Linked DNA regions of Homo sapiens: region 2 is linked to region 1. The links come from fine-mapping of genetic effects on gene expression. A gene starts in region 1. The other region holds a variant in brackets. All regions are shown on one strand. Distances are from middle to middle. Region 1 holds the start of GAB2 (GRB2 associated binding protein 2). Region 2 overlaps USP35 (ubiquitin specific peptidase 35).

Region 1 (15,116 bases):
GCTCCAGCCATGTAAGATGTGCCTGCTTCTCCCTCACCTTCCGCCATGACTGTAAGTTTCCTGAGGCCTCCCCAGCCATGCTTCCTGTACAGCTTGTGGAACTGTGGGCCAATTAAACCTCTTTTCTTGATAAATTACCCAGTCTCAGGTAGTTCTTTACAGCAGTGCGAGAACGGATTAATACACCCCAACAATATGCCACCTATAAGATATCACTTCAAATACAATGATATGGGTAGGTTGAAAGTAAATTGATGGAAAAGATGTATCATGTGAATATCAATAAAAGGAAAGCAAGAATAACTATATCATCAGATATAGGCTATAATATATCAAGTAGCCCTCAGATACTTGTATAATATATCAGATAACAAGTAGACCTCAGAGCAAAAGAAATTACCAGAGACTCAGCAGGTATTATATAAAGATAAAAGGGTCATGCCACCAAGAAGATGTTGCAATTCTAAATGTGTATATATTGAACAACAGGGCTGGGTGCGGTGGCTCATGTCTGTAATCCCAGCACTTTGGGAGGCCGAGGCAGGCGGATGACCTGAGGTCAGGAGTTCGAGACCAGTCTGGCCAACATGGAGAAACCCTGTCTCTATTAAAAATACAAAATTAGCCGGGTGTGGTGGCGCATGCCTGTAATCCCAACTACTTGGGAGGCTGAGGCAGGAGAATTGCTTGCACCCAGGAGGTGGAGGTTGCGGAGAGCTGAGATCATGCTATTGCACCTCCAGCCTGGGCAACAACAGCGGAACTCCATCTCCAAAAAAATAATAAAAAAAATAAAATATGTGAAACAAAAACAGATATAAGTGAAATGAGAAACAGAAATATTCACAATTATAGTTGGAAACTTCAACCCCTGTCTCTCAACAATCGACAGAAGAACTAGATAGAAAAATCAGCAAGGATATAAAAGAATTATATATATCACTATCAATCAAAAAGATATAATTGACATTTATGGAATACTTTACCCAATAATAGCAGAATAAACATTCTTTTCAAAGTACCCATGGAACCTAAAGCAAGATAGACCACATTTTCAGCAATAAAATAAACCTTGACAAGTTAAAAATAATTGAAATCAAATAGAACTTACTCTACTCCCACAATGAATTCCAACTAAAAGACAGAAACAGAAAAATAATGGGAAAATCTCCAAACATTTGGAAACTAAACAATGTACTTGTAAATAATCCATGGTCAAAGAGGAAAGTCTCAAGGAAAGTAAAAAAAATATATATATACTGAGCAAATAAAAATTGAAAATGCAATTTATCAAAATTAGTGGGACACAGCTAAAGCAGTGCTGAGAGGGAAATTCATAGCAGTAAATGAATACATTAAATAAGAGGAAAAGTCTCAAATGAATAAACTACTATATAAAAAAATCAGAGGCCAGGTGCAGCGGCTCATGCCTGTAATTGCAGCACTTTGGGAGGCCAAAGCAGGCAGATCACTTAAGGTCAGGAGTTTGAGACCAGCCTGGCCAATATGGTGAAACCCTGTCTCTACTAAAAATACAAAAATCAGCTGGGCATTGTGGCACATGCCTGCAATCCCAGCTGCTCGGGAGGCTGAGGCAGGAGAACTGCTGGAACCTGGGAGGTGGAGGTTGTAGTGAGCTGAGATCGTGCCATTGCACTCCACCCCAGGTGACAGAGTGACATGCTGTCTCAAAAAACAAACAAAAAATAATAATGAAGCAATGTCAGTATGCAAGAATAAGGGTTAAAAAAATAAAGCAGTGGACCCACTACAGACCCTGCAGACACTGAAAGCATAATACAGGATACTGTAACTCCACTCACATGTATGTAACAACTTAGACAAAATGGACCAATTTGTTGAAAAATGTAAACTTCTATAATTCAGCCAATATGAAGTAGATAATTTGAAGAACCCCGTATCTATTAAAGAAATTGGATTAAAAATGTAAAAAATTCCTAACAAAGACATTTCCAGATCCAGATGGTTTAATCTGGAGAATTCTACCAAAGGTTTAAAGAATTATACCAGTTCTACACCATCTCTTCCAGAAGGCTAGACATGGTGGTTCACACCTATAATCGCAGCACTCTGGGAAGCCAAGGTGGGAGGACTGCTTAAGCTCCGGAGTGTGAGACCAGCCTGGGCAACGCAGGGAGACCCTGTCTCTACAAATAATAAAAAAAAAAATTAGCCAGGCACAGCAGTACGCAGCTGTCGTCCCAATTACTTGGGAGGCTGAGACAGTAGGATCACCTGAGCCCAGGAATTTGAGGCTGCAGTGAGCCATGATTGTGCCACTGTCGCCAGCCTGTGTGACACAGCAAGATTCTGGTGGGGGTGGTTGGGGGGGGGGATGGTGGAAGGAGAAGAAAATAAACGAAGGAAGAAAGACATATATAAATAAATGTAAAATAAATTCATGGACTGGAAGATTTAATATAGTAAAGCTGTAATTTCTTCCCAAATTGGTACACAGGATTAATGCACTTCCTATTAAAATCTCAGCAAGACTTTCTTTTTTTTGCATAAACAAGATTATTCTAAAATTTGTATTGAAAGGTAAAGATAATAGAATAGCTAAAACACTTTGAAAAATAAGAATAAAGTAGAGGAATCAGGCTACCAGATTTCAAGACTTACAATATAGCTAGAGTTGGCAAGATTCTATGGTATTTGCAGAGGGACAGACACATGGAAAAATGGACCAAAACAGAGACAACAGAAACAGACCCACACAAATACGTCCAACTGATTTTTGACAAAGACGGAAAAGCAATTCAATGGAAGTAGGATGGCTTTGTCAACAACAATGACAACAACAAAAGAACCTCAATCTAAGTCTCACATCTTACATGAAAATTAACTCACAGTGGATCACGGACTTAAAGGAAAAACATAAACCTGTAAAATGTGTAGAAAAAAAAAAACCAGGAAAGCCGGCGCAGTGGCTCACGCCTGTAATCCCAGCACTTTGGGAGGCCAAGGTGGGCGGATCACGAGGTCAAGAGATTGAGACCATCCTGGCCAACATGGTGAAACCCTGTCTCTACTAAAAATACAAAAATGAGCTGGGCATGGTGGCGCACACCTGTAGTCCCAGCTACTCAGGAGGCTGAGGCAGGAGAATCGCTTGAACCTGGGAGGCAGAGGTTGCAGTGAGCCAAGACTGTGCCACCGCACTCCAGCCTGGGTGACAGAGTGAGAATCTGTCTAAAAACAACAACAACAACAACAACAACAACAAAGAGAATCACTTGAACCTGGGGAGCCGAGATCATGCCATTGCACTCCAGCCTGGGTAACAAGAGCAAAACTCCATCTCAAAAAAAAAAAACCTATATATAAAATACTCAAATTCTTGAAGACATTTGACCAAAGAGGATATACAGATGGCAAATAATCATATGAAAAGATGTTCAACATCATTAGCCATAAGGGAAATGTAAATGAGAACTAACGGGTGAATGGTTAAATAAACAGACTGTGTGGTACATCCATACCATGAAATACTACTTAGCAATAAAAAACAATAACTATTGATGCATGAAATGAGGATGAATCTCCAGAGAATTATGCTGAATAAAAAAAAGTTCAAAATCTTAAGTACTGCATGAATCCATTTAAATAACACACATGAAATATCAGAGAACAGATTAGTAGTTGTCACAGATTAAGGATGTGGTAGGGGTGGGATGGTAGTGAATACGATTATAAAAGGGCAACATAAAAAATCCTATCATGATGGAAATGCTCTGTATCTTGACTGTATCATTGTCAATATACTGTTGTGATACTGTACTATAATTTTGCAAGATGTTACCATTAAGGAAAACTGGATAATGGCTACATAAATCTTTGTTTACTATTTCTTACAACTAGATGTGCATGTAGAATTACCTCAAAATGAAATGTTTAATTTTTTTAAAAAGCCCAGGCTTTAGGACAAAGCTAGATGACTTTGGGTAAGTTGCTTCCCTTATTATAGGGCTAAATTACTACATTAAAAGATCAATGGTCTAAGCATAGTGCCTGGTACAAAGTAAGTGCTCAACAGATGGCTACTAAAATAATCCTAAAAGTCATGGCAGTGGGGATGAAGAAGCGTATAACAAGATATTTAGATGATACCACTAATGGGTTTTGGTGACAGATTAGATGTGGGATAGTGGGTGACGGGGAGTCAAAGATGATGCCCAAGTTTCTCATCTGAGCAAGTAGGTGCTTAGTGGCACTGTTTACTGAGCAGATGTGGAGTGAAGAGATGAACAAAGAAGAGTTTAGTTTTGGAAGTGGTGAGTTTGTGTTGACTGGGAAACATTCAAATAGAGATGCCCAGTTAACAGTTGGATATGTAAGTCTGAAGTTCAGAACACAACTCTGAGATGGAAATTTAACTTGATGACCACCATGCAAATGATAACTGAAGCCAGTAGAATGGACAAGGTTGCCAAAGGGGAGAAACCACACAGCCACTATGACTATAAAGGAGCTTCAACCTTTAAGGACTGGATAAAAGGGTCAGTCTAGCAAAGGAAATATAGAGTAGCCAGAAAAGGAGAAATAACAGGCATTTATAGTGTCAGCCAAGATAAGAGGAAGGTGTTTTAAAAAAGAGTGGTCAACTATGACCAAGCAGTGAAGAGATTAATTAAAATGAGGAGTAAAAAATCATCCTCTGAGTTTAGTGACCTGGGTATCGCTGGTGCCTTTGTCAGAATAGCTTTGGTGAATAACAAAGTAGGTTTCCACTGGAGCCGACTGAGAAGAAGGTGGGAGAAAGGAAGACTGCATAAACCACCACCAAGTTTATCCCTGAAAAAAAGTAGGTAGTACAGAGAGGGAAAGAAGTTGAAGATGTGTTACAGGATAAGAATTATTTGAGTAGGGAGGAGAAGATATGATTCAAAGTATAAGTAGCAGGATTAGCTCAGATAGAAGTGGCACTTCATCTACTCTAAGAAAAGGAAACAAGAAAGGAACCATGCAGGCTGGGCGCGGTGGCTCATGTCTGTCTGTAATCCCAGCACTGTGGGAGGCCGAGGCGGGTGGATCACCTGAGGTCAGGAGTTCAAGACCAGCCTCACCAACGTGGTCAAGCCTCATCTCTACTAAAAATACAAAATTAGCCAGGTGTGGTGATGCATGCCTGTAATCCCAGCTACTTGGGAGGCTGAGGCAGGAGAATCGCTTGAACCCAGGAGGCAAAGGTTGCAGTGAGCCCAGATCGTGCATTGCACTCCAGCCTAGGCAACAAAAGTGAAACTCTGTCTCAAAAAAAAAAAAAAAAAAAAGGAAGAAAGAAAGGAACTATGCAGATACAAGTAAATTTGAAAATGTGGCCATTCATCGTACGTACAGACAACTACTCCCTCATCATTTCAATTTTCCTTTGAAGGAGAAGGCAAAGCCATTGCTAAGACTGAAAGACTGGATTAATTTTTTTTTCTGTTTACTGGATTTTTATTCCAAGCACCTGATCCAGTGCCTGGGACATAGATTTAATAAGTATATTTAATAAATATAATGGAAATAAACAATTACTGTTACCTTAATGCAGTAGTTCTTTACAATTTGTGCACAACTTTCTTCAAGTTAGCCACTAGGGGGTAGTCTGCCAATCTTATTCCCTCAATCTTTTAATCCAGTGAAATTGATAGAAAACTACAATGCAGTGTAGGTCATATTAATAAAATGTTTTTCCTCAAGAAAATTCTGTTTAATAATTATATACATGTACGTGTGTATGCATTTGCATGCACGCGCATACACACACAAATACACTGAGGCACGATGGGAGGGTTGTTACTTCTGCCGGCCTCCCACTGCAGCCATATCAGGATGCCCCAGAGGCAATAGTCAGCATTTTCCAGAGACACTTTTTGCAATTTCTCCAGGGCACTCAGTAAATAGCAGATAGGTCTCTTATACTTATACTTAATTAACTAGAAAAGGCTGATGAAAAAAATCCCTGAAAACTAATTGCTCAAACATTTGCCTTTGCTTCTTCTAAGATGTTTTTCCCCTCTACACCTTCCCGTCTTTCCGAATTAAGTAAGTTTTTTTGTTTTTCTTTGAAATGGAGTCTCGTTTTGTCACCCAGGCTGGAGTGCAGTGGTACGATCTCGGCTCACTGCAACCTCAGCCTCCCGGGCTCACGCGATTCTCATGTCTCAGCCTCCTGAGTAGCTGGGACTACAGATGCCCTCCATGACGCCCAGCTAATTTTTATATTTATGGTAGAGACGGGGTTTCACCACATTGGCCAGGCTGGTCTCGAACTTCTGACCTCCAGTGATCCACCCGCCTCAGCCTCCCAAAGTGCTGGGATTACAGGCATAAGCCACTGCGCCCAGACTTCAAATTAAGTCAGTTTTTTAAAAAATCGTTTTAAATAGTTATAACCTAGTTCAACTACTTTTTCCCCTTATCACATATGCTCGATGTATTCTTATAATGAGGATTTCTCAATCTACAATATAACACGCCTATGATGTATACCAGAAGCAGCAGCTACTTTGGGGTAAATATACAGCCATGGGGCTGGGAAATACTTTCCAAGCTTGGTTCTAATGAACTCGGGCCTCTACTGAAATAAGCAAACTAGCAGAGTTTTAACTTACAACAGGATGCAAAAATTCTGAATACCCCAAAAGAAAAGTAGATGTAAAGGCATACTGTTCCCCAGAGGCTTAAGGTTACACATATCACCAGTTTCAGTTAGGGGGAAACTGAACTTCCGAAGGGGCAGAGGCTTCCAGTCATGTAAGTGAACACATCACATCCTAACCTAAGAAAAGCTGTTACTTAAAGCTGTTAAGGTCTGACACCTGATGGGCTGAAGGTACATGGAAGATGGGAAAGAGAGGCTAAGGCCATCATACGACTAGATTCGTTCAAATCAGTGAAAAAGGTGCTTGACCCAAATGCCTCCAAACCTGGTTATTTTGAACTAAAGTTGTTTGGGAACAAAAACACCCAAGAAATGGGTCATAGAGTCTGGGTGAGAGTTCAAGGAGCGATAAGTCAAATGTAGATACAGTGTCATACTGTTTGCAAATTGTTTCAAAAACAACTTTCAAGGTTCTTTAGTGTATAGTGTTCAAACTTGAAAATTAAGGGTCACTTTTTTTTTTTTTTTTTTTACTGTGGACACTGTATTCCACTAGCTTGTATGGAAATCTATTTGTATAGATAATTTTTGGAAGCTCTTCGGGACAAAGTTTTTAAATTATTTATAAAATTGTTAATAGTAAATCACTGCTCCTTAATCCTAATTAAAATATTCAACCTTCCTAACGAACTGATACAACCCTGAAGAGGAAAAAAGTTTATTTCTTAATAATTATACTTTGGCTACATAGACACTCCTAAAAATGAGCTTCCGAACTGAGATGAACAATTCACTGCTTCATTCCTCCTATAAATCCACGTCCACTTTCAAAACTCATGTGCTAAATCCTTAGATTTTTTTCCCCCAGCAAACATCTACCTAAGAGCCTGATTTCATTGACACACACTTGTACTCCGCAACAACAACACTTCCTTTGAAAAACAGAATGTCACTTCCTCAGTCCAGAGGCCAGAAGTCCCTTGATTCTGATCTGGGGAGCCAAGACAGGAAATTCTGGTAGGCTTCTGCCTCTCCCCCCATGGACAGCCACTGGTGCAGCTGACAGAGGGCAGGGTCTATTCCGAGCTCCCTTGATGCACTGCAGCTGGAGGCAACGGCTCCCTTCCAGGCTGTGGGAGTGATCCCGGAGTTCGGCACCACAGCCCGTTAAACAAGGGCATTTCATGGGAAACGGAGAGGGAGCAGATGAGAGACCTTGAAACCTTCCAGCAACCTTACCCCCACTTCCAAACTCCCGCGACTACCCCAAGACCATTTCGGCCAAATCTCAGTAACTGGCACCATCTTGTACTTTGACCTCACCAGGCAAGGCATCCTCTGGGGAGAGGGGTTAAAAAAAAAAAAAAAAAAAGCCAGAACTCCACGGCTCAGCGCCACGCTGTTCCACCTCCCCCAGGCTGCCAGTTCCCCACCTAGAGGGAAAAGGCTGTTCCAGCGATCTCAGTAAACACTGTCGGTTGGCAACACCTGGCCGCGGAGAGCCTCGATCTCTCCCGACCCCAGACACCCGGGAGCTGCCCGGTCCCAAACCCGGGCCAGCCACGGGGACCAAACTGCAGTGTCACACCGGGGTCGGGGGGAGGCGCCTGTGAGAGACGAACGGAATAAAGGGAAAGAAGGGGGACAAACAAATGAGTCACTTAATACAAGGGCTGCACATGCCGCTGACGCTGCCGGTGATGCAGCCGCGGACGGAGGGAGGCCGGCGGCCGGGAGGGGCAGGCGGAGAAAGGGAAGGAGAGGGCGTGAGGCGCTCGCCCTTTGTGGGGCCGTCCGCGCGGCCCCACAGCCTACGCCCCCCTTTCCCGCCCTCTCCCCGACCCTGCGGGCTGAAGCTGCTCGGGGCTGCCGCGGAGCCCCAGCCCCGAGAGTCAACTCTCTCGGTCTCCAGAAGCCATCAATACAAAACTTCGACACTGTATTTAGTTCACGAGCAGACCGGCTTGGGAGGCGCCGCAGCCGCACCCGCCTGGCGGAGCAGGAGCCGCAGCCTCAACCTGCCGCCCGCCCCGCCCCTCGGCGGCCCACCTGTGACAGGTGTGCAGGTGCCCCACACGCCCCCGGCCGCTCCTCGCCCCCGGCCCCCCGCGGCTCCGGGCCCGAGCTCCCCAGCCTGCCGCCCCTCCGGGAGTCCCCCGCCCCTCCGCAGGCCCCGGAGCGCCCCCCGCCCGCCCCTGGGCGGCCGCGCCCGCACTCACATAGCGCCTCAACTTCTTCTCGGGAGGCGATTTCCTCAGCCAGCCGGTGCACACCACGTCGCCGCCGCCGCTCATGCTGCCGGCCTGGAGCCCCCCGCCGGGTCGCGCGGACGAGGGCGCGGGCTCGGGCAGCTGGGGCAGCGGCCGGCGGTGCGCAGCTCGCGGGAGGCCAGGGGCGGGGCGGGCGGCCCGGCGGGGACTAGGCGGCGCGGCGCGGCGCGAGCCCGGCAGCCTCGCGCGCGCCCGCTCCCCCGCCCCGAGCGCGCGCAATCCGCACTCTCCGCCCGGCCGCCGGGGGAGCAGCTGCAGCAGGAAGGCCGGCTCGCTCGCCACGCCCGCTCCCGCCGCGCCCCCGAGGCCGCCGCGCACGCGGACGCGGGGCTAGGGACCCGCGAGGATACAGAAAGCCACCGCCGCCGGCGCGCCCCGGAGTCTCGCTTTCTCCTGAGGCCCCAAGCCGCGGGCGCGGAGGCCAGGGAGGCGACCGCGCCCCTGGCGCTGGCGGGTGTGAGGGGAAGGGACTGCGCGCCCTCGGTCGTCGATCGATTTTTCACCGAGCGTCGACGGGGAAGGGATACTAGGGCTGCTCACATTTCCGATACATTCTGCGGGTCAGGTTCCGGCTGAAAGGAGGGACCCCTTCCCAGCAAGAAGCTCCTTAACTCTGGCGTCCCTCGGCGGGAGGAGGAGACGGACCTACTACGCGCCGGAGCCTTTGCTTTTGTAGCTTACAGGATTGTCTTCAGTATTGTTCCTATTTTATGGACAGCCTAAGGGCAAGGGCTTGTACAAAGCCGAGCCAATTTTCCAATTCAGGTGTGTGGGGGAGGAGGGGTCCCGGTCATCTGCTATTCAAAATGAGGGCATTGCCTTAATGGGATCGACCTGGGAGCCTCTCATTGCCTGGAAACCAAGTCCAGCTGACTCCCTCCTACACTGCCTCTGGGAAAACACAGTTTAGTATAGAAAATTCGCATGATTTGTAGAATGGAAGAAGCAAAACTAGTCAATGTATTTCATAACGAATTGGAAGGCAAGGTCAAGTGCAGAAGAACAAGAAATTGGGGTCCAAATTCCCCAACGTTCCCGCTCATTGACACAGGCTATGAGACCTCTGTTTGTAAATATAATGGTATCCCAGATGTACGTGGAAGCACACAACCCCAGCACTTCAGCGGGAGGGGGGAGAAAAAAATCTTTTGTACGAGCTCTTTTCTCATCACAAAGTGTCTCTCTAAGCAGCATTAAAAGGCAGGTCCTCCCTAACTTCTCTGATAAGTGGATAGTAACCTGTTTATTCAATGGGGAACCGTGCTGTGTGGACAGATGAATTGGAGAAGCAGCATCTTGCAGTGCCCCACACAACCTCAGACTAAAGCTGTTTTGTTTATTTCTGTCTCTGTGCAGCTGAGTTGTTTCAAGCAGTTGGACATCATTTGGTCCAAAAGATCTTGATTGGGTTGGGGGAAGTTCACCCTCCTCAATTTGGAAAAGCGAATCCCCTACCACGTACTTAGCTCTTCTAGATACCCTGGGAGTTTTAGCGGTCAGTCCCCTGGATCTAACATTTCACTGACTTTCTTCAATATCCAGTGTGCTGCTGGATGGGAAGTAAAGCCAGAACTGGTAGGCTGGGACCACAGCTCCCTTAACCTTACAATTTAGGGATCCTTAAGTCACGTATGAAGGGCCACCACCAGAATGATGGCCATTTTAACTTCTGGCTTTAAGTACCTTAAATCCCTGTAAGACAAACAACACTTAACGTCTGCCAAATCAATCAGGAGGCGGTGACTTCCAACCAAAATAAAACTATCCTGACTTCATTCACATCTGAGTCATGGTGCCAAGTCCCAGAGATTGCAGAGTCGGAGAAATCTGCATGGTTTGGCTGCAGCTGAGGTTTGTGATGCAAGTCAGGCATACGTATGCCCTATCTTCCCCCAGAAGAGTAGTCTTACGTATCCTTTGATAGTTACATGATTCAATACACAGACTGGAAGACTGTTTAGCAAGAGTTAGTGGGGGTTAGGTCATATTCTGCCAGAAATTCCTTAAAGTCTTATTTTGTTTGCTTAGGAAAAGATGGTGTTATTTACAATTTCATGTGGAAATGGAAAAGTTTGATGTTTCTTGTTTGGCCAATGGCAGGAGGGACCTTGAAATATGAATACAACAGTCACCAGGTATCGACTTTGGGAAGGGTTCTCTGAACACCCCCATCTTTCCCCAAAGGTTAAAGAAAGGAGCTTTTTTTTTTTTTTTTAGACGGAGTCTCGCTCTGTTGCCCAGGCTAGAGTGCAGTGGCGTGATCTCCGCTCACTGCCAGCTCCGCCTCCCAGGTTCACGCCATTCTCCTGCCTCAGCCTCCCTAGTAGCTGGTACTACAGGCGCCCGTCACCACGCCCAGCTAATGTTTTGTATTTTTTTTTAGTAGAGACGGGGTTTCACCATGTTAGCCAGGATGGTCTCGATCTCCTGACCTCGTAATCCGCCTGCCTCGGCTTCCCAAAGTGCTGGGATTACAGGCGTGAGCCCGGCCGAAAGGGGCTTTTTTACTGTGCTCTTCAGCTGGACTCCCACCCTGCGTCCCTCTTGCTGCTAGTGCCCATCTCGGGCTGTGCATAGGAAGCAAGACTGCTGCTCAAGTCCCTGGCTGCACCCTGGAGTGGCTCAGTCTTTTGAGCCTGAGAGGCGTGCCAGGCCTGGAAACAACCCTTGGACGGAAAGTTCCTGTCTGGGCTTTTACTAAGTCCTCTCCACTCCCTGCTGTGTGTGTCTGTTTAAATGGTCCCCGGTTTTTGCTGGGAAAAAAATGGAAAACAAATCATTTGAATGATTTACATGAAGATAGGCGCCATCTATCGGAACCAGTTGGGGTGACAATCCCCCCACCCCCAAGCCCTGAGCGGACATGCATCACTAGCCCATAATTTAGGCAATTTTGTTTAAAGACCACTGGTATTTCCTGGGGGAATTAATCGCCGGCTCCAAGAGTGCTTTGGGTCATTAATCTTATATTCTTATTAAATTCTCAGGAAATGACTATCTTATGAGGAGGGAGCACTGCAGAGATTAGAGAAATGCACACTGGGAGAGCATGGGTACCACTTTGGCCCCCGCTCATAGCTACTCCCACTCCCCACAAAGCCTGGGGTTCTAAAGGGTGCACTGTGGCTTTGAGTGTCGTCAGGGACATCCGTCGCTGCATCCGTGCCTGTCTGGGAGTTGAGGGTTTGTGGCCAGCGGCAGGTGCATGGCTGGTGGAATGCTTTCAGAAACGGGTTGAAGGGCTGGAAGGAGAGCTGTCCTCAACTGCACACCAAGCTTGTGTGATTAATACCACCCACGCCAGGCCTGACGTCAGTGATTGGACTGGGGGTGGGGATGGATGTTTGTGTGCTAGCCCTTCTGCTTTTTCTCCCCTTCAATTTAGTTGACAGGTTAATTTCAGAACTGAGTGCTGCTTACGAAGGTCAGTGTGACCAGCTGAACCACCTCAGCTGGTGTCTTTCAGGACACTCATCTCTCAGGCATATAAAGGTGTATGCTTCTTTAACCCCTAGTTACTTGAGGCCCACATGGTTCCCTATATCAAATTACCTTAACTTACTCAAGTCAACTCTGGGCATCTGGTTGAGGATGAGATCTGGAAGTGGGAATGGGGTGGGGTTAAAGACCTAATTGGGTTTCCTCCCTGTCTGTGGCTAATAGTCTGAGAGTTACTTGACACTATACCCAGTGGGAGACATTTTGAAAATAAACTTTTGGCCGGGTGCGGTGCCTCATGCCTGCAATGCCAACACTTTGGGACACTGAGGCGGGTGAATCACTTGAGGTCAGGAGTTTGAGACCAGCCTGGCCAACATGGTGAAACCCCAACTCTACTAAAAATACAAAAATTAGCTGGGTGTGGTGGCGGGCACCTGTAATCCCAGCTACTTGGGAGGCTGAGGCAGGAGAATTGCTGGAACCTGGGAGGTGGAGGTTGCAATGAGCTGAGATCGCACCATTGCACTCTAGCCTGGGCGACAAGAGTGAGACTCTGTCTCAAAAAACAAACAAACAAACAAAAAAAAACTTTCTTAGAGAAAAGCTTGAGCAATCCCATTTTCCCAATTTCTCCTTTGAAAATAACCAGAATCAGTGCTAATGGCTCTGTGGCAGTTAGGCTCCCACGACTTTGCTGCTGACACTGGTAAATCAGTTGTCATAATCCACCAAGAACAAAGACTGTCAAGATCCTTGAGAAAGTGCTGTAGTCTTCCAAACCACACTCTGCAATGCTGGCTCCTTTTATTTGCTCTGCAGAGAGAACTCCTACCTTGAATTAGATCTTGAACATACGTCAAGACCTCTTTCCCTAAAACTGACTGTCCCCATTCTCCAGCAAAGTTGTTCACTCTTTTCTTGGTATCCACACTGCACTTATATAAATTGGATTATCACACTGTACAGCAAATATTTCCTTGTCGAGGAATTGTGAGTTCCTTGAAGACATGAATGTGTTTTTCTCACTTATTATTTTTTTAGAGACAATGTCTTGCTATGTTGCCCAGAGTGGTCTCAAACTCCTGGGCTCAAGTGATCTTCCTGCCTTGGTGTCCCAAAGTTCTGGGATTACAGGCATGAGCTACCACATCTGGCCCTTCCTCATTTTTGTATTCCCAGAGCTTCCCAGCATGGTACCAGCACAGAATAGATGCTCATTAAATGTTCATTGTGAGAATGAAGGAACCAACCCTTAAAGGATGACAGGTTGGGGCTGTAGACTACTGGAACATCTAGAACTCTCTGATCCATACAAACCAGAGAATAGTATTTGTGAAGGTACCTATAAGTGGCTGGAGTGGTTTTTTTTAATAAAAATTGTCAGATAACATCGATGTGTTTATTATGTACAATATGATGTTTTGAAATATAAATACAAATACATAAAATACACTGTGGGATGGTTAAATCTAGCTAACTAACAAATGCATTAACTAATATAGTTATCATTTTTGTGGTAAGAACACTTAACATCCACTTTCTTTACATTGCGTTTAAACCCACAGGGACGGCCTAGCTGGAAGGACTTAGCAGGCTGAGGTAATCCTGTGCAGTTCCACTTTTAAAAATGGTTGTAACTCGACATAGAAAGGAACGAGATCATGTCCTTTGCAGGGACATGGATGGAGCTGGAAGGCGTTATCCTCATCAAACTAACACAGGAACAGAAAACCAAACACCGCATGTTCTCACTTATAAGTGGGAGCTGAACAACGAGAACACAGGACACAGGGAGGGAAACACACACTGGGACCTGTGAGTGGGTAGGGGGTTGGGGGAGGGAGAGCATTAGGAAAAATAGCTAATGCTTGCTGAGCTTAATACCTTGGTCATGGGTTGATAGGTGCAGCACACCACCATAGCACACATTTACCTATGTAACAAACCTGCACATCCTGCACATGTACCCTGGAACTTAAATTAAAAAAAAAAGAAAAATTCCAGAAACATGTGAGAAAATAAGATTCCCCCGAAATCTTAAAAACAAAAACAAAAACAAAAAAACATGGCTGTAACTCTTGGATAGTTTCAGAAAACAATGACTCCTTTTAACCTTTTAACTGGTACCCCCAGATTCCAGAGAACCAACTTTGTCAACCCTTGGTTTCCAAACTCTGACACTGTTGTACACTCTTTACACACCCTCCTTTGTGGGACTACAGAATTAAATCTCTTTGCGGTTACTCTGTTATCTGGCTTCACTGTGACAATCCTACAGGGGTTTAGCACTTAACCCCTTGTACCAGATGCAACACTAGTGAAGCTGGAGAAAACCATGTCCCCTGAACTCAAAGTGGCTTTATTCAACAGATGACCAGAAACGTCATTTCCTTCTGCACCTGATAAATTGCATAGTAACTGTGCAGGCTTGCTAGTCTTTGTTTTGCTGGGAACCTAGAGGCCTCAGGATTTCACCTCATCTAACTATATAATTCTACCAGAATTACCCAAGATGATTGTCCGACAATATAGCCAATGATGTGCTGGCAAATATTTTAAAATTGGCTCCCTGGTGGTGTTGGTGGGTGCCTTGATTTACAGTATATGCCAACTGTTGTGGCATAAATACTCTGCCAGCCATGGCCAGTTTTAAGCTATCAAGTTAATGTCCTTGAATACAGAGTTAAGAGATACACAGTAATACACCATTATTTAGTATTTCCAACATAAAGACACAATAGACATAAATAACACCAAGAACACAATAGTAAAATGTAATTAGCCAAGTGATG
Region 2 (15,116 bases), 200 kb before region 1:
ATTCTGGCTTGCGTGAGATGGTATCTCATTGTGGTTTTGATTTCTCTAATGGTCAGTGATGTTGAATTTTTCTTTCGTACGTTTGTTGGCCACATGAATGAATGTCTTTTGAGAAGTGTCTGTTCATGTCCTTTGCCCACTTTTTAATGGGGTTGTTTTTTTCTTGGACATTTAAGTTCCTTGTAGACTCTGGATATCGGACTTAGGTCAGATGGGTAGTTTGCAAAAATTTTTTTTCATTCTGTAGGTTGTGTCTACTCTGATGATAGTTCCTTGTACTCCGCATAAGCTCTTTAGTTTAAGTGGATCCCATTTGTCATTGTTTGCTTTTGTTGCAATTGCTTTTGATGTTTCCATCATTAAATCTTTGCCTATGCCTATGTCCTGAATGGTATTTCCTAGATTTTCTTCTAGGGGTTTAATACCTTTGGGTTTTACATTTAAGTCTTTAATCCATCGAGTGAATTTTTTGTATAAGGTATAAGGAGGGGGTCGAATGTCAACATTCTGCCTATGGCTAGCCAGTTCTTCCAGCAACATTTATTAAACAGGGAATCTTTTACCCATTGCTTGTTTTTGTCAGGTTTGTTGAAGATGGTTGTAGGTGTGGAGTCTTATTTCTGAGTGAGTTCTCTATTCTGTTCCATTGGTCTATGTGTCTGTTTTTATACCAGTACTATACTACAAGGCTACAGTAAGCAAAACAGCATAGTTTGAAGTCAGGTAGGCATTAGGCTTCCACTTTTGTTCTTTTTGCTTAGGATGGTCTTGGCTATATGGACTTTTTGGCTCCGTATGAATTTTAAAATAGTTTTTTCTAATTCTGTGAATGTGAATGGTAGTTTAACGGGAATAGCATTGAATCTGTTAATTACATTGGGCAGTATGGCCATTTTCATGCTATTGAGTCTTCCTATCTATCTGTGAGCATGGAATGTTTTTCCATTTGTGTCCTCTCCTTCACTTCCCTTGTTAGCTGTATTCCTAGGTATTTTATTCTGTTTGTAGCAGTTGTGAATGGGAGTTTGTTCATGATTTGGCTCCCTGCTTCTTGTTGGTGTATAGGAATGCTAGCAATTTTTGCACATTGGTTTTTGTATGTATCATCTTGAGAGTTGCTGAAGTTGCTTAACAGCTTAAGAAGCTCCTGGGATGAGATAATGACATGATTCTGTATCATCTAGAAAACCCCATTAATGCAGTTAATAAGTGTGCTGAAGGAGGAGTACAGGGACCAGTTGAGTCTGAGGGGGAGGAGGATGCTTCGGGTGTGGGGGGAGGGGGTCCCACTACCCACGTGAGCCTCCTGTGTGACTCCCTAGAGTCAAGGGTGGCACTGGCATACTGAGCAGCTGGAACAGCATGGGCTTTGACCAGTGGGATGGGTGCCAGTGCCTGGAGTTTGTGTTTTGTGCGGGGGAATACAGCAACTGGTGTGGGGACACCAGACCGGGTGTCACCAACATCAACTCCTTCTTCCCCAAGGACACAGCCTATGTGCTGTTTTACCAGCAGCAGCCCAGGGAGGGGCCTGAGGCTGAGTCAGGCTCTCAGGGACAGCTTCTGCCATGCTGTCCAGATGGAGGCAGGGTGGCGGGTAAGGATCGCCATGAGGCTGACGTCCTGGTAGCAGGAGGATGGGCTTTCTCATAGGCAGAGCCCATTCCTCGTGATCATGAGGCCTGCGGACAGGTTCCCGTGTGGTGTGATATGACCCTCGAAGTCCTCAGACCTCTCGGTACCACATTAGGCCCTTGTCAGCTAGTCAGTCACACCCTAGTATCAGCTGGCTCAGGGACTAGAGTTTTTATTGAGAGGAGGGGGTCTTTTGAAGTCTTTTGAAGGTGTCCACCCCGGATATCCTGCCACTGAGCTGCAATGTCTCTGTGTGTCCAGGCCCTGGGGACCTAGAGGAAACATTGAAAGGTGTTGTGCTGGGTAGACTCACTCTGGCTTCAGGGTGTGAATTCTAAGTCTAAGTCTCCTCTCATCTGTGTTCCCAGGAGCAGGAGAAGGAGGCCCGGAGCAGGGCGGCCTACATCTCTGCACTCCCCACATCTCCGCACTGGGGGAGGGGCTTTGATGAAGACAAGGATGAGGATGAAGGCTCTCCAGGGGGCTGCAATCCTGCAGGTGGCAATGGTGGTGACTTCCACAGACTGGTCTTCTAATGTGAACCTGCTGCCAACCTGACCCCTTCCCTCCAGGAGCCAGGTAGGGCCTGAGGGAAGCTGTGGAGGCAGGCCCTACCAAGAGGAAGGATGGTACAGCTCATGGCACCTTAGTCCTCAGCCTGATGAAGGGTACACAGAGATTCTCTCAGATATGGAAGTAAGACCTAAGTCCCTTTCATTGGGGATCAGTCCCATTAAAACTTTACACCCAAGTGTCCTGGTTAACTTGAAGCAGCCGAGATGGGCACACACGGGTCTTTGCCTCCCCCTCCTTCCCTAGCAGGCTCCCCATGCGGGAAGATCTGATGATGTTCAGGAAACAGGCTAGACCTCAGCTCCAATGTTTTGACATCAAGTACTATTTTCCTTCCGACTGCTGTACGGTATAAAGCACAGCAGGATCCAAGCCTTGCACAAAGGGGTGGGGGGGGCAGTGTCTCCTCTGGCTGTCCTGTTTGTTTGTTTCTCATATGGGGGTGGGGGGTACCTGCACTGTCTGTACCTTTCTGAGAAGAACAGAGACCGAGACCTGCCCCCTTACCAAGCGCCACTGCATGGTTTTGGGGGGGGGGGCGGGGGGCTAGCTTCTCACAGCAGGAGGCCTTTGCCCCCACAGCCCCTCCACGCCTGCCTCAGGGCCTGAGAAGCCACCACTTGTATCCCCCTTGTGGTTAGAGTCCTGATTTTACTGCAAAGGTGTTCATGTTCCTTGTGAAGTGTGGGCTCTTAGGAAGCCTGTGGGCTCCTCTGAGCAGTTGGCCTTTGTAGCTGCAACAGCAGCCACCTGCAGGTTGGGTGAAGTGCCCTGACACTGCTGTAGCCCCCTTCTAACTTCTAACCGAAGACAAGACAGACACCCATGTT[C/CTTAAATAAATAAA]ATAAATAAATAAAAGTAAGCCTAAGCAAGAGATTGTTCTTCCTTGGACTCAGGGGCTGTGATGGCCACTGGGTTTTGCTCACGGGGTCTGGGGAGGCCAGGACTCAGCCTGCCCCCCAGTGACGTGTGAGATGCCACAGGGAGCCAAGAGCCCTCTACTGAATCTACTGAAGTGGGGTGTAAGTAAACGTGTGGACTGACTGACTTACTTACCTTACTGAGGGCTGGGTGATGCTGCCCGTGGAGAGGATGCACCTGGGAGGCAGCTCTCAAGCCTTTACCTACCTCCTTCCCCAGGGGCTGCCTGCTGTGATGGTGGTGTGGAGTTTGGGCCCAATGTCACAGACCCTCAAGATGTCACATCTAAGTGACCTGTGAAAGCAGCAGACAGACACGCCCAGAACCCATCTCTAGACGCCTAAGAAAGCTGGATGGGTAAATGCTAGTATGATTTCCACTTTACAACAGACGCTGAGGTAGAGAGCATTTGTTCTTATTCACAGCCAAGAAAAATACCCAATTATTTCCAAATAAAGCAAAAATTGGAACAGACTGGAGTGAGAACGGGTTCCACCACCAAGCCCCTCAAGACAAGATGGACACGGCAGCTGGTTCTGGGGTGCATTTCTAGTGGACTTTATTGTCCTGCTCCAACACCACAGTAGAAAGGGACCTGCAAGCTCCAAGCCTGTACCATGTGTCACCACAGCAAAAACATGACCCACTTGAACACACTCCTGTCCCACCCACCGGATAAATATGTTACAATTTAAAAAAAAGAATACAACAGAATAAATTAATAACTTAAGTGATTAGGCACCAACAGTGATTTGAAAATTAAATGTCAATTTTAAATGGTAACAAGACAAGAACTCAAGACTGGGCTTCCACTAGCCCATTTTCTCTTCCTGACAAACAGTGACAATTCTGCGTGAAATAATTCTAGATTTCAAGACACAAGTAGCCAACAAATACACAACACATGCCACCATAAATCACATGACAGCCTGGATCTCTTGGGGACCCCCTCGGCAGGTACCCCATTGTGGTCCCAGGTCCTAAACAGCAGGGCTAGTCCCAGAAAGACGACCCCCCACGGAAGGGCTTTAGCGCTCCTGAGACCAGTCTGGCTTCCCCTGCATTTTATGAAGGCCCAGATGGGGAAGGAAGAACTCTGGAAATGGGATAGGGGTGCTGGGCCGAGATGTCCCCATGGGAGAAGGGGCCAGAGGGAGGATGAGCTGAGCCCATGCTCCAGTAACTTCAGAATGGTTGTGCTTTTGTCACAGGAATGGGGCATACTTTGTTAACTTCTACATTGGAAACCACTAAAGTCAAGCTAGGAGGGGACTGGGGATAGGTACTGCCCACCCCAATCCCCCAGAAAGAAGTTACAGAGGAGGGAGTCTCCCCTTCAAGCAGCTGAGCACCAGCTGTGGATGGGACCTCAGCGCAGCTAATCCAACCTCCCATTCCACAGACAGGCAGATCAAGGACTTAAGGAGACACCATCTCCCTATTTCTCATCGTTCTCACTTGACTTAACCTTGCAGAAGTGGAGCTGGAAGTGGGTGAAGAAGGCTCCTTGGAGAGCCCCAGGCAGGGGGCCTGTGTGAAGCAGTGCTGAGTGGGAAGGTATCCCCTTTCCGTAGGCTCAGTCCTCTCCAGGCCCCCAGGAGAGGTGGACTTTGACCCATGGATAGGCCAAAGGACCAGTTTTTTCAACTGAGTTGACTCCTTTGTTGGAGGAGGTAGTGGGTGGAGGGTGGGGATATGCTAGATACGGCTGGTAGTTTGGGGCCTGTGAGCCAGAGCTTTGCTTTCAAAAGGTCAATTTCACCTCTCATCCTTCCATCTCTACCCCTACACTTGCACCCGAGGGATTTTGGTAGTTACCAGAATAGGGGGCTGGAAGGAAGCCTCCTGGTAGTTACCAGAATAGGGGGCTGGAAGGAAGCCTCCTGGGAGATTCGATTTGAACACCTCAGTCGCTCTCCGAAGATTCCAGCCAGGTCCACTCACATCATGGCACACTCAGAACATGCTCACATGTTTATGGGAGGCTGCAATAGTCTGGGCCCACTTGTGGCTGCTGCGGGTACAGGGAAGGCACCAGTTAAAAGCTCTGTCGTATGGGGCCCCTTGTAGGGGGCCTTTAAGGCACACATTCAGGGCTGGGCAGAGTGAACCAGCACCCTGCCAACTCTGCCCAGTGTAGCTACCACCACTGCTTCCATTCACTTATTGGAACACCAAGGCATGGCCCCTACACTTCTGAGTGGCTGGACCCATATGCTCAAAGGCCTTTTGTTCCCAAGACACAAGGCTTTCCAAGCCTCTCCTTCCTTCTTCCTCCACTGGACCCAAGCCCTGCCCTCCTCCTCTGTAAAAATCTGACTCATCCCCTTCTAAGGCCTACCTCAGGCACTCCCTTTTCCTAGAATCCACCTTCCCTGATCCCCCACTCCTGCCTCTGACACCAACCTCCCTAAGTACTTCCTCTGCCCTCCATCAGCATTTGAAGTCTCTGTCTGATGGCCATCACCACTGTCTCATGTCCTTGTCCTTTTTCTGATTGTGGCTATCTTAAGTTCAGGGAGAAGGTCTGATTGATTCTTGTGTCCTTAGTGCTTAACCCCAGAAACTGGAGACAGCAGCCATTAATAAATACTCCTTGAGTTGATCTAAACTAATGCTAGGAGGAGAGGTGCAGCTCTTGAAGAAATAACTTCTTCCAGGATGGGACTTAGAGAATGGCTAGGCCATTGGTCTGGTGAACTATGCATGCTCATGGGAGCTGAAAGGGGAATGGGGGCAGAGGACAGTGGTAGCTGTCCCCATCAAACATGGCAGGAAGTCATTGTTTGGGAGGAAGAAGTTCTGTTCGCCCCAGGGTAGAATGAAACGTCTGGTCTGTCCTGTTGCTTCTGAAACTCTTGAAAATTTAGTCAAGAACAGTCAACATAAAAACATTCAGATCCCCCACCCTTAGTTTAAGAGAAGGAACCTTGGGTGATGCCCTACACCCCGTCCCTGCTAATCTGATGGCCTTTCAAACCTGGGGAGGAGAGTCCAAGATGGCTCCTGGAATGCTAGGGAGCAACAGAGGGCGGATGAGCTGAGGAAACACTGGGCCGGCACCAGGCCAGACTCGTTCCTACCCTGCGATCTGACATACGCCACAGCCCATGGGCACAAGCTGTCAGCCATGCCTGATGTGGTCCTCTAGGCATCATTCTGCCCTGCTTTCTCCTTGTCCTGCCTGACCCACTGTCCCATCCTAGGAACGGTCCTCATGTCACACCACCATGCACACCACTCTTGCACGTGTCCCTCCTTCACTTTCTGCTCCACCCTGCACCCCCAAGGATTGCGTTGGGCACCCCCCAACTCCCAGGCCCTTTGGATGTATTTCCCCACTTGCTACATGGCCTTCACCACTGCTTCACATCTGTCTGCTACCTCTGTGCCCGACTTCCACTGCACTGCTCACTGCAAAGAAACTCACTTCCCGACCCCACTGCAGAGTCCCCTGCACTGCCCTGTGCCTCTGCCCAGCCTGTGCCTGTCCCAGGGTTCCCCTCAGTCCCTGCATCACCCCCATCCACACCACACTCCCTCCCATATTCCCCACCCCTTTACCATGTGTTCCTGCCCCATGTGCTTGGTCGCCCAGCTTGGTCCAAGCCTTCCCCTGTATGCTGCTTTCAAGGTGGGGCTGGCGGGGGCCTCTGAGGGGACTGGGGAAGAGGACTAGCCCTTGGGCCTAGAGTGGCCTGTAGCTCCAGAGTTCTGGGGACCCAGACCCCACAGTGTCCTTGTCATCTCCACCACCCGAGCTCCAAGCCCTGCTCCTTGCTGCTCTAGGTTGGCCATCAGTTTTCCCTTCCTTTTGTCCTTCATCTTCTGCCTCTGCACCCCACAGCAGCTGTCCTGCCATGGCCTCAGCCTCAAAGTGGGTTCCCTGCAGATGTCAGCTTTCCCTCTTCATCTGGGCATCTAAGTCCTTTACCCCTCAAGACCACTGCTGAGCCTCCGTCTCCACCATCTCCTCTTTTAGTGGCCTTGCTTCTCTCCTGCCAAGAAAAACAGGAATGAAAAAGTCCATTATCCACTTTGGTTTGCTGGTCCTTGACTCCCTGGGTTGGTGAGACTTGTCTTCTGGGACTGAAGGAGAGGTAGCCCAGTGGCCGGAGGGAAGATAGCTGAGGGCTGTGACTGAACGTGAGGTGTGGAATCTGGCTCAGAGCCCCAGCCCTTCCCTCCAAACATCTGGTAGAGAGTCAGGTCTAAAGGACAGGAAGAGGCTGAAGGATGCTTTTTGGAAGTAGCTCCTAACTAAGGTGGGTGGAGGCATGGCCATTACTGATAAAAATCACAGCTGGGCCCCGAGTGGGCAGAGGAGGTGCCTTGATCAGGCCCTCACCTCCCAGGGGAAGGGTTCAGGGTCCCTGATGTCAAGTGCTTTGAAGGCTGAGACTGGCAGAGTAGAGAGGAGGTGGATGGGAGGAAGAACGGGAGAGGGGAGAGGGGAGATGGGAAGGGCCAGCTCTGGAGATGCTGCCTCCTGGGCTCTGCGGTGGCCCTCTCATCACAGCTTGGCACCCTTGGAAGGCTCTGAGGACTGCCGCACGTCTGTCCACTCCTGCATGGTGTTCTGCAGGGCCTGGGTCTTCTCCTTGTCCACCTGAACGTAGTCCACCTTCTCATCAGAGGTGACGGATGAAGTAGATGGCTGAGGGGACAGAGTGGGAAAGAGGGAGTAGCTGTGAGTTACCAGTTAGGTGGGGAGGAAGAAGGTGGGCACGGGATCTTCCTGAGCTGTCTGAAGGGGAGAAGAGCATGGCCTCTGCCTGCCACTGACCAGCCTCAGGAGCCTGGCTTCTCTTTCTGAATGTGGGCTTTAAAGCTCAGACTCCAAACTCATCATCCCTCCTGCAGGATGTAGCAGCACCTGCCAGCCCTTCTTACTTCCCGGCTTCTGGGAGGACCCAGGCCCTTCCTTGGCCCTGGTGGATGGGTCCAGGCCTTCATCTCTGCCTCCACCCATCTCTGTCAGGTCGCTCATCCAGGGGAAGGAATTTGCTAGGTGCAAACAAACATCAGCCACAGGACTTTACGTGCTGTGCTCACTGCCACCCTGTGAAGGGGAACCATGCTGAGGCACAGCTCTGCACCCTTCTGTCTAGACTGCTTAGCTATAAGGATGCCTCCTGGGGAGGCTTTCCCAGGCCTGGAAGTCCCTTCTGAAGGCTGATGTATCGACGGCAGGGCTCTGGACCCACTCGAGAGCCCAGGACCAGGAGGCAGTATCCTCATTCCTGGATCTGTTGCTGATTCACTTTGTAACCTTAGGACAATCAGATCTCTGTGCACTCATTTGCCCATCTCTACAACACGGGGGATGGGCTGACTGATGAGGTTCTCTGACTGAGGGTACTGTGCTCTGAGAGCAGGAATAGGAGTCTTTAGACCTAGATGAAAGCTCTATGACTAAAGATGCATCATAAAAGCTGGGTACTGGAGCAGGAGGGAGGCTGAGTGCTGCTGTTCAGTGTTGAAGGCACCCTGGCCTCCATGATCTCTGCCTCCGGGACCCTGAGAGCTCTTACTGCCCCCCCAACTCTACTCCAGGCACCTTGCGGTGGGGGCTTGGGGAGCTCGGCTGGAAGTCCAGGGCCAGATAATCAACGCTGCCGGTGCTCTTCTTAGGGGCAGGACTGTTCGTGCCACTGGGAACGGGAGATGCAGACACTGGGTTTTGCTGTCACGAGGAGGAAAAAACTGTGAGTGACTGCAGAAAACAGACTAACCCACCACCCAGAAAAACACCTCTGGGAGTAAGAACACTGTTTCCCTGAGCCCTACTCTGACACATGCACCATGCTAAGGACTTTTCATGTTTTCATTTTAATCCTCATGACAATCCTGTAAGGTAGGTATGATTACTGTTGATACTGTTTAAAGCAAAGATGAAACTGTGGTTCACTTTACTTTCAGAGAAGTGACTTTGCCTGTGGCTGCACAGCTGTTGAGTGATGGGAATCAGGTCTGTTTTCTGACTTCCAAACCTGTGCTAACCCCTGTACCACACTGCCTCCTTTCTAGCACATCAGGCCAAGTCTCATCAACAGTGGCTCTCCTGAGACATCCAGCCTTTGCTTGCTGGCGCTTAAGAAAGGAGCACATTTCCTTTATGCACTGGAAAGTTTTCTTCTGTCGCACCAAATCAGCCCCTGTGAAACTCCCACCTGTGGCCTAGAGTGGGGTAGTCACCCCAAAGCAGCTTGCTCCCCCGCCTAGCTCCTCCAAGATCTGAAGAGGGTGGCTTCATCTCCAGGCTGCACAAGCCCGCATTTCTTCAGATGACACGCTCTAGGATCCTGTCCATCCAGGCTCGTGCTCTAGCAGAGCACCACCTCCTCTAGAACTTTCTGGAAGTCTTATTCTAATGAGAAGGTGATAGTCCTGTGTTCTGTTTGTTGGCTGCTTTACTGGTTGGTTAATTCATTCTTTCACTATCTATGCAGTGACTACCAGGTGCTGGGCAGTTACGCCCTTAATGGAAATCTCAGGGAAGAAATATCCTCCTCTGCCTGTGTTGATAGCTCTATTATGGCCTCACCAAAGTGAGTTATGTGCACGTATGCCTCTCACCACTGAGGAGATACCTCCACCACTGAGGAGATACCTCCAGCACTGCCTATCCAAGGGCACAGATCATGCCACCCATGTCACTGTCATGAGAGGCAGGCCCCTGCTCTTGAAGACCATGACTTCGTTGGGACAGGTCTCATGTCTTCCTTACATCTGATGACAACTCCTACTGCTTGATAAACAGGTGCTCAAGAAGGGTTTGTAGCAGGAGACTAAATCATGAATAATACAAGGAGTCCCTGGGCTGAGGTGAGTTAGCTAAGCTGGGAAGTGGGGAACTGAGGGGTGGGTCCCAGGGGACTTGAAAGGCGTCATTCCAGCGAAGCCCGAAGGACTCACCATAGGGACATAGTTCTCTTCGCTGTCTCCTGAGTCTGTGCTGGTGATGCTCTGGGTGGAGATGGGGCGGCAGTACTGGGAGGAGCTGGAGTTGAAGGTGTGGCTGTTGTGGGAAGGAAGAGTTAACACTGGGGAAGCTGCATGGCTGCTGCCATGTTTCTAGCCTCCAGCTGGGCCCTGACCCTCACACACCCAGACCTCAGCCATTAGAGCTGCACACTCCATCAGATTAAGATCTGATATAGGGCAGGTATAATTATTCTCTTTTACAGCTGAGGAAACCAAGCCACAAGACATCGAGACATGATCAGCTAATGATAGCGTTAGCATCAGAATCCAGCTGTCCCGGCCCACAGGCCAGCTACCACATCACTCATTTTCCCTAATGGCCCGACTCCAAGCTCCCACCCCCACACATACGCACTTACTTGGCCCTAGACCAAGACTTGGTGATAGGTGACTTGAAGGGGAGTTCATCGATGACGGTGTTGTTCCTCAGGTCAAGTGGTGTTGGCTTTGCTGGAGCAGGAAAAGAAAGTCTGGTAATCAGCCAGTAATGATAATGCTACACATACACACCTTATATATAACACATGAGCATGTTTATAAAGGCCTGCAAAGTCATTCCAGTTTCACACAGGGAAACTGACGCTCAGCGAGGTTGTATAATCTTTGCCCATATTGATGAGCCTTGAAGTCATGTCTTCAGATTCCAAATTATATATTCTTTCTGCTGTATCTATGGTAATTATATTTTCAGAATCAAAAGTGGGGACACAGGGTTTGACAACAGATTTTTCTCCCTCAATTTATGACTTCATTTAAAAATAAAAGACTATATATAAAATATATTTATATATTAATATATTAATATTTATAAAAATATATACTATTTATATATTAACACACATATATGTATTTTTTAAGACGGGGTCTCACTCTGTTGCTCAGGCTGGAGTGCAGCGGCGCAATCTCAGCTCACTGCAACCTCTGCCTCCTGAGTTCAAGTGATTCTCCTGCCTCAGCCTCCCTAGTAGCTGGGACTATAGGCGCCTGCCACCACGCTTAGCTAATTTTTATATTTTTAGTAGAGACGGGGTTTCACTATTTTGGCCAGGCTGGTCTCGAACTTCTGACCTCAGGTGATCCACTCGCCTCAGCCTCCCAAAGTGTTGGGGTTACAGGCGTACAGGCGTGAGCCATGGCGCCCAGCCAAGAGACCATATTTGAAGTATAGATGGTCACCGTGACTACTCCCTGCTGCTCCTGGCCAGGTCGGTGCAAGCCACAGTGGAGGAAGGTAGATGCCATAAGGGCTTGAGGGCTTCAGTTCCAAATGCTAAGATTTGAATTCCCTGTTGGCCAGACCCACAGGGGGCTATCTCTGCCTAGCTATCCTACTCCTCCCTTTGAATCCTTGCCACTGATCCAATGCCAGGAGAGTGAGATTGTAGCAGACGAGGACCTTGCCTGGTCTACATGCAGGGGGCACAAAGCTGACTTTACTGAACGCCTGCTATGTACCAAAGTACTATCCTAGATGCTCTCCTTTGCAGCAAACCTGGGAGGTAGGAATTACCATCTGCATTTCACAGATAAGAAAACTGAGACTCAGATTTTACATGATTTGCCCCAAGTCACACCTCTCAAGTCCAGGATCCACATGACCCCTAAGCAAATGGAAAGAGTCCCTAGCCACTGTCCAGAGATGGGACAGGGGAAAGAATGGACTTACCTTTCCGATCAGGTTTGAGGTTGCGGTTGACAGGGGGTGGCTGAATCTCACTTCCTCTGCTGGGGCCTCGGTGCACAGGAAGGGTTGTTGATGGGTAGCCAAGTGAGTCAAAGTGATGGGCCCCTGGGCTCATTGGGATGTAGACGCTCTGGGAATTATCACCTGCTCGTTCCATGGCCAACAGGGTGGAAGAACCTGGATTCATGGGCACATAGTTGTCTTCAGAATTGGTGCTGTCCGATCGGCCCACAATCATTTTCCCTGGCTAGGGAGAGGAACAGTGAAAGAAATACAGCTGTTACTAGCAAGAAGAAACAGGAAGGGGGTAAGACTTTGTAAATGAGGCAAGACAAGTCATGACTGGGTTAGCTATACTTTGAAGCTGTAAGGGAGACCTTGGGGAGACCAAATAAGAAAGCAGAGTAGTGGGAGGCTGAGGCAGGTGGATCACTTGAGGTGAGGGGTTCGAGACCAGCTTGGCCAACATGGCAAAACCTCCTCTCTACTAAAAATCCAAAGTATTAGCTGGGCGTGGTGGCATATGCTTGTAGTCCCAGCTACTCAGGAGGCTGAGGCACGAGAATCGCTTGAAGCTGGGAGGCCAAGGTTGTAGTGAGCCAAGATCATGCCACTGCACTCCAGCCTGGGTGACAGAGTGAGACTCTGTTTCAAAAAATAAAAAATAAAAAAAAGGAAGCAGAGTGGGAGACAAGAATATATGAGGTCTGTGGGCCCCTTCAAGCCTTCACGATCCTTTGGCATCCACTAATAATTTTTGATAAATCTAGAGTATAAAATATTCTTGGTGACTGGGTCCACTTGGCTTTCTGGACGCCTGACCAACACTGTGGGTGGCATAGTCCATAGACTGTAGGTTTGGTTCAGGACCTGCCCTCCACCTCAAGTCCAGACTCACCACTGGCAGGTCAGCATCTCAGGCCCTGGATCAGAACAAGGAGCATATTAGGAGTCCTGGCTCTGGAAGGTGAGGTCTGGGGCCAGTTGTGTTTCCCCAGTCCAGGTTTCTAAGTACCTGGGGCTCACTCCAGGCACCTAGGGGACCACCAAGCTGCAGTCAGAGCTTCTACAGAGTTGTGTGATACAGCAATCCCAGCCTTCCTCTAACTCTTGCTCTATCTGCCGTGACATACAACTAAGCTGCTTCTGCCTTGGTTACCTGATTTCACTGTCTTTTCAGTGGGCCTGAAGCCAGGCCCTGGTCTTCTTGCCTGACACCTTGGAGAACTGCGGTTAGCATCTTCCAGAGGGCAGCCTGGGATCCTGCACTCAAGCCATAATTCTGCCACTTAGCCTGACTGTGAGTACCACCCTTGCCTGGAGTCTCACACTGCAGCCTCCCTCCTGCATGTGAGGCCACGTGGGTAAGGTTGCTGTCTTAGAGGTTCCCCCACCGTGCAGCCTGGGTCTATTGCATTCTAGATCCTCTGCTTACCTACAAGGTTGGTGAACCTTGTAATCCAGTCTACCTTAGCACATACATTTCTTCCAGACTAGAATACTTATATCTTACTTGTCCAAAGACTCAACGCAGGGTTCTGAACTGAGACAAGAACTTGGGCAGGGTCCTAAGATGGAGACGCCATCAATCTTTTGGGGTTGTGCTTTTAATTCCATAAGGTGTGACCTTTTACCTAACCAGGCCGGCCTGAGGACCCTTGGGTTAACCCACACTCACCAGGAAAGAGCCAACTCCATCACTCATGGATTCAGCAGACCGGCCTGCACTCTCTCCACCACGCTGTGGGTACTCGTAGGTCTCACAGGAAGAAGCTGACAGAGGAAGGAGGATTCATAAGTACTCATGGTTGATTCATGTGTTGACACTTACCCATACCCTCACCAGTGTGGTTCAAGGTCTTACTGATACTCCAGAAGATACTACTCTCAACCCCAAATGATAAGGAATTTCTTCGAACACATCACTCCTCAGTTCAAAAATTCCTCCTGGGCTTCTAGATGTAGCTCCAGTGTTAGCATCTGCAGAGAAGCTGTCCTTGACTACTCTACCCTCATCTATGCACCTCTCCTTTGACTCCTACACCACTCACCTGTCCTGCTCACCCCAGCCATCACTTCTCTGAACACCACAGTAACAATACTTGTCCTGATTTATATGTGTTGGTTTTATTTTCCCAATGAGATGTAAGCTCTGAAGGGCAGGAACATGTTTTATGTATGTCTTTATCATCTCAGTTCCAAAACGGAGTATGACTGCTCAAATTGTCGATGGATTGAAAGACGGCAAAGAGGTCTAAACTAGGAGCTGGGACTCTAGGGTCTGAGTCTCATCTCTGGCACAATGACTCTGCAACTCTATTTAAGTCTCTTAACTGTCATTGGCCTCATGTGAGATGGAGACAAGGAGGTTTTGTCCCACCAACCTCTCTGCCTGGCTTAAACAACAGGATGGACAAGAAAAGGCTTTGCAAACCATAAAGCAAGATGCAAAATGAAAGGAATTAATATTGTTCTATTTTTTCATCATACAGAGGAGGTTACATGCAGAGTTGGAATACTCTCAGTGGAAAACAAGTAACAATAGAATTTAGGTACTTCAAATAAAAGTTTTGACTTCAACCAAAGAGATTCAAGTATGATTTAGAAAATATTAAGACCTCGTTTTGCTTTAGCAGTCTGTTAGTCCACACAGGTTTCACTCCAGTTTGGACTGATCTTCTGAATTTATTTTTTAAATCTTTGATTTGATTTACAAATGAATAAAATACAATGATTTGGGCTTCTAAACCCATAATATGTTATACTGTGGTTAATCAAGAATGTCCTATTCTCCATTAGTAGAACATTAACTTCTCTGGGGCTAGCTCTGTTAGACAACTACTACTAACAGCCTCCAGTGCTGGAGGACCAACTGGTAAGGGATCTGGGTAGAAGACACCTATGTTTTTGAGTATCAGTGACCTAGGTGGTTCGTAAGTTCCCCTCGGCCATGGATGACCAAGGACCATCAAACTATTGAGAACCCCTGTGTTACCTCCTCCTCCCTCTGAGTCTCAGCTAGGACTTATACTGACCTCGGTGAAGTCGGCTGTTGTCCATTGCAGGGAGGGTGTTGCGTCTGGGGATGGTGGCAGCGACAGATCTGCTATTTTCACTGATTGGCGGTCTCTGCTGAGGACTGCCCCATCGAGGTGTTTCTGCCTGACTTGGCTTGGGGGGGCGGGGTGGGGGAGCTATGGCTGAGTCCCCAGGAGTGGCCACTGTCATGGCATTGTGGTTTTTGTCCAGAGTGAATGTCCTAGGGATCTGGTAGGCTGAGAGTGGGGTGGCCGGAACATCCATATTGTCTACCAGGAGGTCCCCGAACT

What was found.
Region 2: its variant is fine-mapped to the expression of GAB2 in adrenal gland (GTEx, PIP above 0.99).

Annotation. Positions count from the first base shown.
Region 1 is chr11:78,408,814-78,423,929 of GRCh38, forward strand. GAB2 (GRB2 associated binding protein 2) reads right to left here and starts at 9,007. Exons shown (of 10, transcript NM_080491.3): 1 at 8,833-9,007. The coding sequence starts at 8,907. RefSeq lists enhancers at 4,914-5,043, 7,993-8,747, 11,683-11,732 and silencers at 7,610-7,904, 8,367-8,496, 8,567-8,666, 8,777-9,396.
Region 2 is chr11:78,211,643-78,226,758 of GRCh38, forward strand. USP35 (ubiquitin specific peptidase 35) reads left to right here. Exons shown (of 11, transcript NM_020798.4): 11 at 2,004-3,590. The coding sequence ends at 2,171. GAB2 (GRB2 associated binding protein 2) reads right to left here. Exons shown (of 10, transcript NM_080491.3): 4 at 14,823-15,116; 5 at 13,466-13,560; 6 at 11,770-12,034; 7 at 10,463-10,553; 8 at 10,035-10,137; 9 at 8,677-8,802; 10 at 3,651-7,773. The coding sequence ends at 7,630. Among named protein-coding and RNA genes, the nearest start is that of USP35, 30 kb to the left of the region's middle. RefSeq lists a silencer at 11,701-11,790 and enhancers at 11,881-12,150, 12,191-12,270. The variant C/CTTAAATAAATAAA (reference allele first, on the strand shown) is at 3,039.